2 separate regions of the Homo sapiens genome follow, and region 1 is linked to region 2. Evidence: fine-mapped expression QTL. Tissue or cell type: tibial nerve. Region 2 holds a variant in brackets; the other region holds the start of a gene. All regions are shown on one strand. Distances are from middle to middle.

Region 1 (5,106 bases), 130 kb before region 2:
GATTTTGAAACCCACAATTAGCCAGGCACTGTCCCCTTGCCCCTGGGGAGACATCAGTGACCCGGACTGGCCATCAGTGACCCAGGCTGGCAAAAACTCCCTCTCTATGCAACTTCCTGGGATTCCCCTCCCACAGCCACATCTCCAAAAAGCCGGCCTCTAGCTTGGAGCCCTGTCCCTAGCCTTTGGCAGCCTTGTCTGCAGGTGGGGTGGCAGGAGCTGGGGCCAGAGGATGGGGGCAAGGCTGCCCAGGCCCAGCCAGGGGCTGGCACACATGAAGAACCTCCTGCTGGGTGTGATCTGTGACTTTCCAGAGCCTTCAGGCCACATCATACAATGCTCTAGGAAGGAAACAAAATGGTGTCCCAGTTCAAAATTATCCACATTTACCAAGAGTCCCCCGCTTACCCCGCCCACCCCGTAGCTTTTTCCTGGGTCTAGATGGCGCCACTTTCAATCCCGCCCCCCACCAAAAATGACACACCCAATAAATAGATTTCCTCCATGTATTTCCCTGTTGTTGTGTTTACAAAAACATTGTTGGTTGCACTACCCCTTCACATCCTACCCCCTCCTTTTGTCAGAAGGAGGGCAGGCATTTCGGGGGCCTGGGCGCTCAAGGAAGGCCTCGCGGGTGCAGGAGAGGCCTTGGGGTGTGCAGGGGAGAACCTGCCCCTCTGCCGTCTTCGACCTTAAAGTTTAGTCCTCGGCTCTGGTCTGGTGGCTTTCTCTTGCCTTCTCCTAGGAAGTTTTCCCAGCCTCAGATGCGGCAGAGAGGGGACAGCAGCTTGGAGTCCTGTGAGGAGGTGGAAGGACACGTTAGTGGAGATCCTGGGCCTGAGGAGAACTAGCATTGCTCAGGGGAGGAAAATTGCCTCTGCTGGCGCCTGCGGCCTCCCACGAATCTGAGAAACACTACTCCACCCGCCTCTGCGTCCCTCAGGCCCTAACGGTGGTTTGCGCTCCTGGGTTCTAGCGCCCTTGGGTCTCGCTCGCTGGTGCCCGCCCTGCACCCGGGGCATCAGGAGCACCCCTCCCCACCATTCAGATTCTAGAGGAACGAGACCACTTGGGCAGGTGCGGGTAGGGGACCGGGCGTGGAAAGCGGGAGTGCAAGCAGGTCCTCAAGTCACTGAGACTCTCCTCACCTTGGGGTGGGGACTGGAAGTTTGTGAGCTGCTTGCAATCCTGCAGTTTGAGGAGCGTGGCCTGATGTTTTAACTGTTTTGCTTTAGGGCGCGCAGCCTCTCTGACATGCATTGTTGTGAGTTCACCCTAAAGGGTATGACTTCAGAAACGATCACTGCCGCGATCATTAAAACAGAAGATGATGTCTATGAAATTCACTCGACTTGGTATCTGGGCCTCTTTCAGTGAATTTAAACTCGCAACATTAAAGCAACTCTTGGGAGAAAACGGGAATATGTCCAAATCTCAGGTCATTCAAGTCAGACATCCGCGCTCAGAACCCCAAGGAAGGCTTTTAAAGTTGCGGAATGCACCAGAAGGAGAGCAGGGATCCCCCGAGGCCCCACTTGCGAAAGACCCCCCTCCCTGGGCCCCTCCTCCTCTTCCTACCCCTACCAACGTTGGAGGGGGTCTGGACTTTGAAACTTGTCACGGGGAAAAGAACCTTCGCCGAGAAGGCTGCTAATGAATTCAGACTGCATAGTTCTCAAAATCTGATGTTTTGCAATGATGACATTAGCGTGGCGGCCGAGGGTCCGAGCCCAGAAAGTCTGCGCAGCTGCTCGGCGCTTTGAGCGCCCGGGACAATGGGCGCAGTGTTCGGCCTCGGCCTCTCCAGGCCATTTGCATACCCCGTTCTGCCTGAGTGACCGGCGGAGCTGCGGCAGGGAGCAGCATTGTCCACGGGTCACTTCAAGATGAGCGAGATGACAAGAGCCAGGTGAGCGATGGGGCGGGACATTCCCCAGGTCACGAGAAGAAAACGCGGGGAGAGCCTTGGCCAGAGCTTGGGTTTGTTGATTCTCGAGGTGGGATTTGCTCGTTTGCTCTTAAAGCACTCATCAGATGTTGTAGGGGGAAATTCGAGATTTAAAGATTTTTAACAAGAATTTACAAAGCCTCATTTTGGGAGTAATTTGGGGTCTTCCTTTTTCTGAAAAATCCAGTGATCTTATGGCATTTTATTTCATTGTATTCTTTCACTCTTCGAAGTTTAAGAGTTCCACCGCCAAAGGGAAGCAGTTTCATTCTCTATAGCCAAAAGCTGTCACCAGTTGAGTCTGAATTTGTTATTTTCCAGAAACACCATTTTGAAAAGTTGCAACTGAGGCCCCTTGGCCGGCAAATCTGAGCTGCAGAAGCGCCTGAATTCCGGACGTTAAACCTCCAATCACCAGCCAGGGCAGCTCCGGCTGGGACAGCGCGGGCGCGCGGCCCCTCCACCGCCGCCAAACGGAGCGCGCTTGACGCCCCCGTTTTGACTTCAGCTCAGAAAGACAAGTCTTTGTAATGCAAGTTCCTCTTCCCTAGAGAGTTGACGCACCACCTGCCACCATCTCTACCCCTAGCCCTGGAGCGGCCTGCAGAACTGGGACTCTTCTCTTGTGGATTTCAATCGTGGGGCGTGTAACTGTTGCCAATAATTTTCAGAGACCTGGATCCTTAAGGAGGGGATCCTGGGGGAGGGACCTGAGGTGGGAACGGGTGGGTGGGACGAAGGACGAAGCCAGAAAAACCGAGACAACAGGAGGGAGGCAAGGGACCGAGGGCAACGTTTCTCCCAAGTGAAACACGCTGCATTCCGGCACCGACGGCTCCTCCGGCGCCTGGGCCCCCCCAGGCCCCGCCGCGATGCACCCAGGGCCTCCCGAGGCCGCGCTCCACCCAGGCTGCTCCGGGTCCGCAGCCCCACAGGCCCTCCTCCCCTCACCCCTCCTCCTCCCTCCGCCTCCCGCACCCGCGCACCACCCACTCGAGCGAAAAGCAAGTCAAGCAAATCCTGGGGAAGGCGCCCCACAGCCCTCTCCCGCGGGCACCAACACCTGGGCACACCGCGTCTCAGGCGGTAGCGGAGCTGGCCCACACCGGCCCCGCCAGCGCCCGGGAGGCGTCTCCAGGTCCCTACCCGCGTTCGCTGCGGATTGCAGCGACGCTCATCTCGGGAATATAACGATTAATCCAACCGCAGGTTTCCAGATAAGTGATTGTGATGGAGACTGTTGGCGAGAAAATAGACAATTATCCGCTGTTAGCTTTACATAAAGATCGCATTAACTCAAATTAGTTATCAGACAAAAGAGCGTCGGCGCGCGCGCCCTGCCTGCCCCGCGCCCTGCCCGCGGGGACCCCCGGGCACAACCAGGCCCAGGGCACGGCAGGCAGGGCCGAGGCCTCGGCAGGGCGCGAGGAGAGGGGGCATGCACTAGGGGGCTCCGAGCTCTGGCCCCCGCGGGGACTGCGTGTTGCGCCCTCCTAGACGCAGCGCGGGGCTCCAGACGGGGACAGGGTGGCTGCCCGAGCGCTCCCCGCCCCCCAGCGCTCCCCTCCGCTGCGCTCCGGCTCCCCGCTGCTGCGCCCCTCCCGCCCTCGCGTCCCGCTGCCGCAGTCCCTCTTCCCCCGCGCGCTCCGCGAGGCGCTACCCTTTTCTTTCTGGCGCCCGCAGCACCAAGTTGCTGGTCCCTGAGCACGAGGAGACGAAGTTAATGACTCCGGGAGGGAACTGCCCCTCGACCCCAAACTCGCAGCGAAAGCGTCCTCGGCCATGCGAACACTCTTAGACTACCGTCCTGTGCCCCGCCGTCCCCACTCCACGCGTGCGGTCACTGTCCCTCCCGGGGTCGCTCCCTGCGGGGCCGCGCTGCCACTCGGACAGGAGAGGGGACCAATGGGAAAGGTGGGCTGGGGAGAAAGGGCGCAGAGCGACCCTGGAGCTGGGTGTCCATGGCCTGGGGGCACCGGCTGAAACGTGGCCGTACAGCCTGGACGCCGACAGAAGTTGCGCACTGCCCACGCGCCGCGTGGCCTACTGGCGTGCTCTTTCTCCCGTGTCCCCACTAGGGTTGACACCGGCCCGCCGGAACACAGATTTGTGCAAACGCACAGCCCAGCGCCCTGAGCCCCGGCCTGGCCGCAGCGCCCAGCGGGGTTCCCCCCTGTCGCCGGCGCGCGCTGGCGGCGGTGCTCCCGCCCGGGCTGGCCTCGCTCGGCCCCCAGGGTCCCCGGGCCCCGCTGAATAGGGCGGATAATGACCCCCGGTTCCCAAGGCAGGCTTTCTGCGGCCTGGTGAGCCTTGGACTTGTGTGGTCTAAGCCTTTCCCAGCTTGTCCCATTCTGTCACCGGGATAAGGGGCTCCCTCGGCTCGTTTGCACCTGCGTCGCTTTTGGCTCCTTCAGGAATGCGCTGAAGCTTGTAATCAGCTTTGTGAAGCCATTGAGTGCACGGCTGAGTGAAACTTCCAAAGCTCGAGGAAAACGGGCCGGCTGAATGGGAGCCAGCATGGGGCTTCTCTCCAAGCCTCCGCGCTGCCAAATTCCAGCAGAGCCCCTCACAATCGCTCCGCGCGGGCTTGACTGCTTTCCCCACACTGAGAAAAGTGAGAAAAGAAAAGCGAAAATACCAGTCACCGAGGTTAGCCGCTTGTTCCCAGATTAATGGCAAACGGCCCCCTCCTCCTCCCCGCGCCCCCGCCCCCGCCCCCCTCCTGCATAGCGTACGGATTCAGGAAACACGGCAGAGGGGAGGGGAGGACAGTTATTCATAACTCCCCATCTGATTTCATATTTTCTGTCCCCTGCCCAGGGCGGGGTCTTCGAGCCAAGCGCGCGGTCCCCCCGCCTGCAGGTGCTGAGCTGGGCTGCCGCGGGCCCGTGGCCTGGGGAGGTCTAAGCAGGCTTGGCTGCACGCCTCGCTCCAGTAGAGGAGTCAGATGAAGCCAAACCTAAGATTTCCCAAAACTAGCCCTGCAAAGCCTTCACAGTACTCCTAACAGGAAACAAAAACAACAAACCAGCCCTGGGCCTCCAGTGACCTCCATCCCCACATCCACTCAGCAGGGCTGGCGCCTGGAAACAGGCACTTCTGGATTTCAGGGGCTTGGGAAGGAGGAGGTACAGGGAAGGGAGGACTTCTCTGACACC
Region 2 (5,199 bases):
ATGTGTACACGACACCCACATCTGTGTACACACACTCACATGGATACCCACGCACGTGTACACATATGCACACATCCATGAACACTTGTGCACACACCTAGCGCACAAACAGGCGTGCACCCGTGTATGCCTTACGCACACACAAGCAGGCACCGTCAGTCCTGTGTAGTGTGGGGTCACCTGTGAGTCACCCCGGGAACACGCAGCTCCACAGGCGGCGCCCATCTGTTAAAATTTTGAAAAGACAGCCCACACTGGCTCTGTTGAGAGCGGCTGCCTCTACGTTCTTGCTGCCCCCTCACAAATCAGACACTGCACATATGTTGTGATAGCAACTGTTACTCTTTGTTTATTCCCTCTATAAATAAACTCGGAGCTGCATCAGACCCTGTGAATATTTTTAGAAAGTTTCGGGCATCACAGCGGAATTCAGCATCTTGCCCATTCATAAGCTTTCTGTGCTTCAGAAAACCAAACACGCGACAGATTCCCACTGACATTCTGCCAGTTTGATCTCTAAATAATTCAGCATTAAAATCTGGTCAGCTCTCCTACCTCCCCGAAAAACTCCTGCAAACACTGTGCCAATTAAGTTGCTGAAAACAGCAGATTTGCACTGATACCATCCAGATAAAGCTGACCATTAAATCGCAATTTAACATCCCCGGGCAGCAGTGGCTGCTGACAGCCTCCAAAGCTTGCAATCTCATTTAACCCCCTCCTGTCAGGAGCAGGCCCGCCCTCTCAGCATAATGCCGCCAAATTAGACCTGACAGGGCAACAAGAGAAAGAAAAACCTCTTTAGCTTAAAAGTCAGGCCACAGTGGGCAACCCTGACCTTCAGCGTCCCCTGCTCAGCCCCCTGGGTTCTCCAGGGACCCCGGAGACATTTACGCAGAGAGAGGAGGAGAGAGATGGACAGAGGGGAGTGGGGCGGGGGCCCCGGCCACAAGGCACTTGGATTTCCCAGGGGGCAAATTACAGAGAATTTTCCTAGACAATGGAAGAAAATTTCACCTGGGCTTTTTCAAGTCTTTCTTTGGTAATAAAAGATGAACCCTGATGGTTCTGTTCAAACTACTGTGGCTCAATATTTCCCTGTGCCTGTAGTGCCCTCTGACTCCGAAGCCAGGGGACGCCTCTGTTGGAACACAGAGCCCCCTCCATGCCGCAGACGCCTGCATTTTAGATGAGGCCATCTTAGCTGGTGGCTGCAGCCTTCAAAGCCCTCCCCATAACTGGCATTTACCAGAGCTCTGTTTTCATAAGGAAATCAGGCTGCCTCCGAGACCCCTGACCACACGCGCTCTCGCCGCTGTCCTTTCCACCCGCTCCACCTGTTCTGCTAAGAGAGGGTGCGGGAAAAGGAACGGAAGGAGGGGAGGGTCCCGGCACAGCCGATGGGAGACGATTTTCACAACAGTCAGGAGGATTTCTCCAAATCCAGACGGAGCTACTCTCAGAGAAACGGCTACCCCACGTTTCACACCCGACAAACGAGGACAGAGGCAGTTGTAACTAAAATGACTTCCATGTATATTCTAGTTCAAATCAGTCATTAATCTAACAGAGATTCCTTTGCAAACACACACTTTTTGTTTTTTCTCCTGTACAAAGAAAAATGCTTTAAGGCCAAAAGTTAGAAGGGTGTCACCCATCAGTTTTGTAACACATCCTGGACCTTAAGAAAACCGAAGGCAATACCCCACTCTAAAATCCTGTCCGTCTCTTCTTCCTCCTCTTCAGTCCTCTCCTTGCCTGAATTTCATAAATAGATTGTGATTGCACAAGTCAAAAACTTCTCAAAGTCGAGCTTAAAAGAGACAGAGAGTCAGAGACAGAGAGAGAGAGGGAGAGAGAAGTCCTCCTCCTCCTGGAGTCACTCCCTCTTTAGGCAGCGGTTCAACACCTGTAAGAAGGCCTTTTTAAAAAGGAGAGAAGAGCCAAGCTGCTTGCAGGAACAGAGCCCCAGGCGTCAGCGCAGTCTGCTGCCCACCTCTGCGGTGCCCCAACCTCCTGTGACTTACCGTCCGGGCTCCC[A/G]GGGCCACACCGCAGGAAGGACTTCCTAGCGCTCCTGGAAACCGCTGCCCTCCACGCCGTGGTCGCGACCTGCTGCAGAGGCCGGCTCTCGGGGGCTACTGACCCACTCAAGTTCCGAAGTCTCCCCCCTCCATTTTTTCCCCTCCTTAAGTTAGACGAAATGGCTATAGCAGAACCCACCTCAATGTTTATTTCGACTTCCCGGGGCTGCAGTGGAGTGAAGTCCTGCCTGCCCACGCTTTTCTGCAATGGAGTGGTTTATTTAATTTGTCAGAATAATGGGAGCGGCTGAATGAGAGACAGAGAATGCAGTGTGGTATAAAAGAAACAAAGGCTAAAAGTACCACTATTTTGATTCCCTTTTTAAAATTACTTCCAAAGTGTGGTATCTATTGTGAAGAATAATGCTGAACAAAGCAGTGTCTTGGCAAGATTCACAGAGCTTATTCACCCACAGCCAGTTCTGCCTGCGCATTCAGAGGTAGGACACACTTATAAATGATGTATTGGAAGGACCATAGCTCCTATTGTGTTCTCAGTGTAAACAAAAAGGCAGACAGGGGCTGAATGGTGTGTAGGCAGTGAGGCCACGCTGCAGCCAGCCATCCCCGGTTCTGGAGAGGGAAAACTGAAGTCAGCGGAAGCCCCAGCAGAGTCAGTTTGTTGAAGGCTCATCCCCCACTTTCTCCTCTTTGTCCATCAACCCTAGTCAGGGGCTGGAAAGGCTTCTAGAAGGTTCTCCTGGGAAGCACTGCCTGGAACATCCCTGCCACTCACGCTCCAGGTGGACGGTGCGTCCTGAACCTGACGATTTCCAGAATCTTTCAGTGAGAGGACACTAGTCTCCCCCGATAACAGCAGCTTCCACGAGTTTCAGCAAACTTCATGACGGCCTCTGTGCACTGTGCGCAGGAGCTGGGGGTGGGTTCCTGCAGCCTCCCAGGCCAGCCCCTGACAGCTGGAGGAAGTTCTGTTGTTACCGAGGCAGGCATGAGGCTTTCTCTCTGGCCCTAGAATCTCTCATTCTGAAGGTCCTGCAGTGGATCCACCTGGGGCAGCTGGATTCTGCATTCCCCTGCAGGTGGGCAATGCTTTCTGGTTTAATCTTTCAGCTCAGAGCCTAAGTTTTTTTTTTTTTTTTTTTTTTTTTTAGACAGTTTCGCTCTTGTTGCCTAGGCTGGGGTACGATGGCGCAATCTCGGCTTACCACAACCTCTGCCTCCTGGGTTCAAGCCATTCTCCTGCCTCAATCTCCCGAGTAGCTGGGATTACAGGTGCATACCACCACGCCTGGCTAAGTATTTCTTTAGTGAAACAACTTCACTGCATTTGTCAAAAAAGGGCCCTGCTGTTTATAAACTGTAAACTTCAACTTCCCTTGTCCATTTGATGTAAAAGCACATTTTGAATATTGGTTTTCTTCTGGTAAAACATTTTTAGACACTCTTGCCAACGGGCAGAAACAGTTTAGTTCTGCAACTCTGATTCTTGTCCTGTTGTGGGTACACACAGAGACTGCTGTCTCTCACCCACGTGTCTGCTCACATTCCTGGGGGGAGACCTCAAACCATCCCCACCCCCGTAACAGCACTCCCACGGTGGGGATGGACCACACCTAAAATGGAACTGTTTGCCTGCTTAGTCAGGAAATATACCGAAGAAGGGTGTGGGGTTTTTTGCAATGCAAGTTGCTGTTTGACTGCACGGAGCGTTTTGGTTACGGGAGGGAAGCGGCCAGCATGGGGCTGTGTCTGTGGCGCAGGATATGACTCCAGTGCTCCTGGTGGCTTGCAAGGATGCACCAAGGCCTCGCTGTGTCCCAAGTGGAGGCTCGCCCAGGCCCCGTGGTGCAGAAGGTCCCACAGTAGCCCACGTTTGACCGATGAGCAGAGGCTTCCCGAGGCCACATGGCCCAGCTTAGCAGGGATTGTGGAGCACCTGGCCCCAGCACTGTAACAGCCTGTGTTTACTTTATCTAGACACCTGGCACCACGTTTTCATTTTCCATTCCAACTTAGCAAATTAATATTTCTTACCTTAAGCTGAAAAACCCAACAGCCCATACCTCTTGCGGTGTTTCTGCCATGGCAGCACACGGGGCTCTAATGTTTTAGGGGTCTGTGTACCCTTCGCCCACTAGTGTGCTCCCCGCCTGCTGCCAGTGAGTCTCGGTGCGACTGAGTGGAGAATGAGGCCACCGGAGTTTCTGCAGCTCGGGACGCACCTTCCATCACGTGCACGTCTCACAGGACCTTCCTGTGCAGCTCCAGGAAACCACACCAATTCCATAAAATACGGACACAGTCACCTTGCTGCTGAATTTTTGTGACTTAGATTTTGTCACGGGACATTTGTAAAAATCCCTTTTAAAATTATTTATTTCCCATGACGGAAAGAGAAATCAATACCAGTGTATAGATTTTAAAGTTGGGATTCTTCAAACAGCTCTAAAGGCAACATTTTGACACCTTCTGGAGAGTTCTGTGAGTGTAAAGTTTACAAGACTGACATTGCAGTGAAATACTCTAAACATCTACTCAGGAAAAAATGAACAAGTGATACAATGTGTTGACACAGTGAAAGTAAACAATACAATACAACCACAGGTCAGGTGTGCTGAGCCCTGCACTCCAGGCCTGGCTGTGCCAGGAACCTGTGGCCAGCCTGAGAGAGCCTCAGCTTCCTCTTTAGAAATGGGGACCAGAGTGTTGCCACTCAAAAGAATGAGGGCCGTGTGGTAGAGCTGGATCGGGGTGTACCACATTGTACCTGCGTGAGCAACCCCAGGACTCTGCACTTGGAAAGGAGAGCGTGAGCCCCGCCAGGCTGGCACTGAGGCAGCAGGTGCAGTGGTGGCTCACTTCCACTCTTCTGCAGCCTTCATCCAGGCCTCCTGCGCTGGGGTCACCCCTCTGGTCACTGGCAGTGCAAAGGCTGATGAGGCCCCATCTACCGCGTGAAGAGAGCCCATATTTCGAGTACTTGACTGAAGCTTGGACATTTCCAGTTTTTGTAAAAATTGCTGCGATGGGGTCCCTATGACTAAAGAAAGGAGTTGATTAAACCCACACCATTGGCTTTCTCTGGGAGCCCTGGGGCCTCAGGGGCCATCGGGTTCAACCACTTCACTCCACAGATGGAGAGACTGAGCCTCAGGAG

Alleles and levels. Alleles are on the strand shown, and positions count from the first base shown. SD is a standard deviation of normalised expression in the study named.
For the expression in tibial nerve of the gene that starts at base 1,879 in region 1, allele G in region 2 goes with a higher level than allele A (moderate effect, 0.59 SD a copy in GTEx).

Evidence for each region. PIP is the estimated chance that this variant, and not a neighbour inherited with it, causes the effect.
Region 1: LINC00404 starts here. The variant in region 2 is fine-mapped to the expression of LINC00404 in tibial nerve (GTEx, PIP above 0.99).

Annotation. Positions count from the first base shown.
Region 1 is chr13:112,103,402-112,108,507 of GRCh38, reverse strand. It overlaps LINC00404 (long intergenic non-protein coding RNA 404), which reads left to right and starts at 1,879. Exons shown (of 2, transcript NR_047014.1): 1 at 1,879-1,909; 2 at 2,270-2,413. It overlaps SOX1-OT (SOX1 overlapping transcript), which reads right to left. Exons shown (of 4, transcript NR_120392.1): 4 at 493-796. RefSeq lists enhancers at 491-1,109, 1,730-2,349, 4,211-4,830.
Region 2 is chr13:111,969,415-111,974,613 of GRCh38, reverse strand. It overlaps SOX1-OT (SOX1 overlapping transcript), which reads right to left and starts at 2,304. Exons shown (of 4, transcript NR_120392.1): 1 at 2,221-2,304. The variant A/G (reference allele first, on the strand shown) is at 2,041.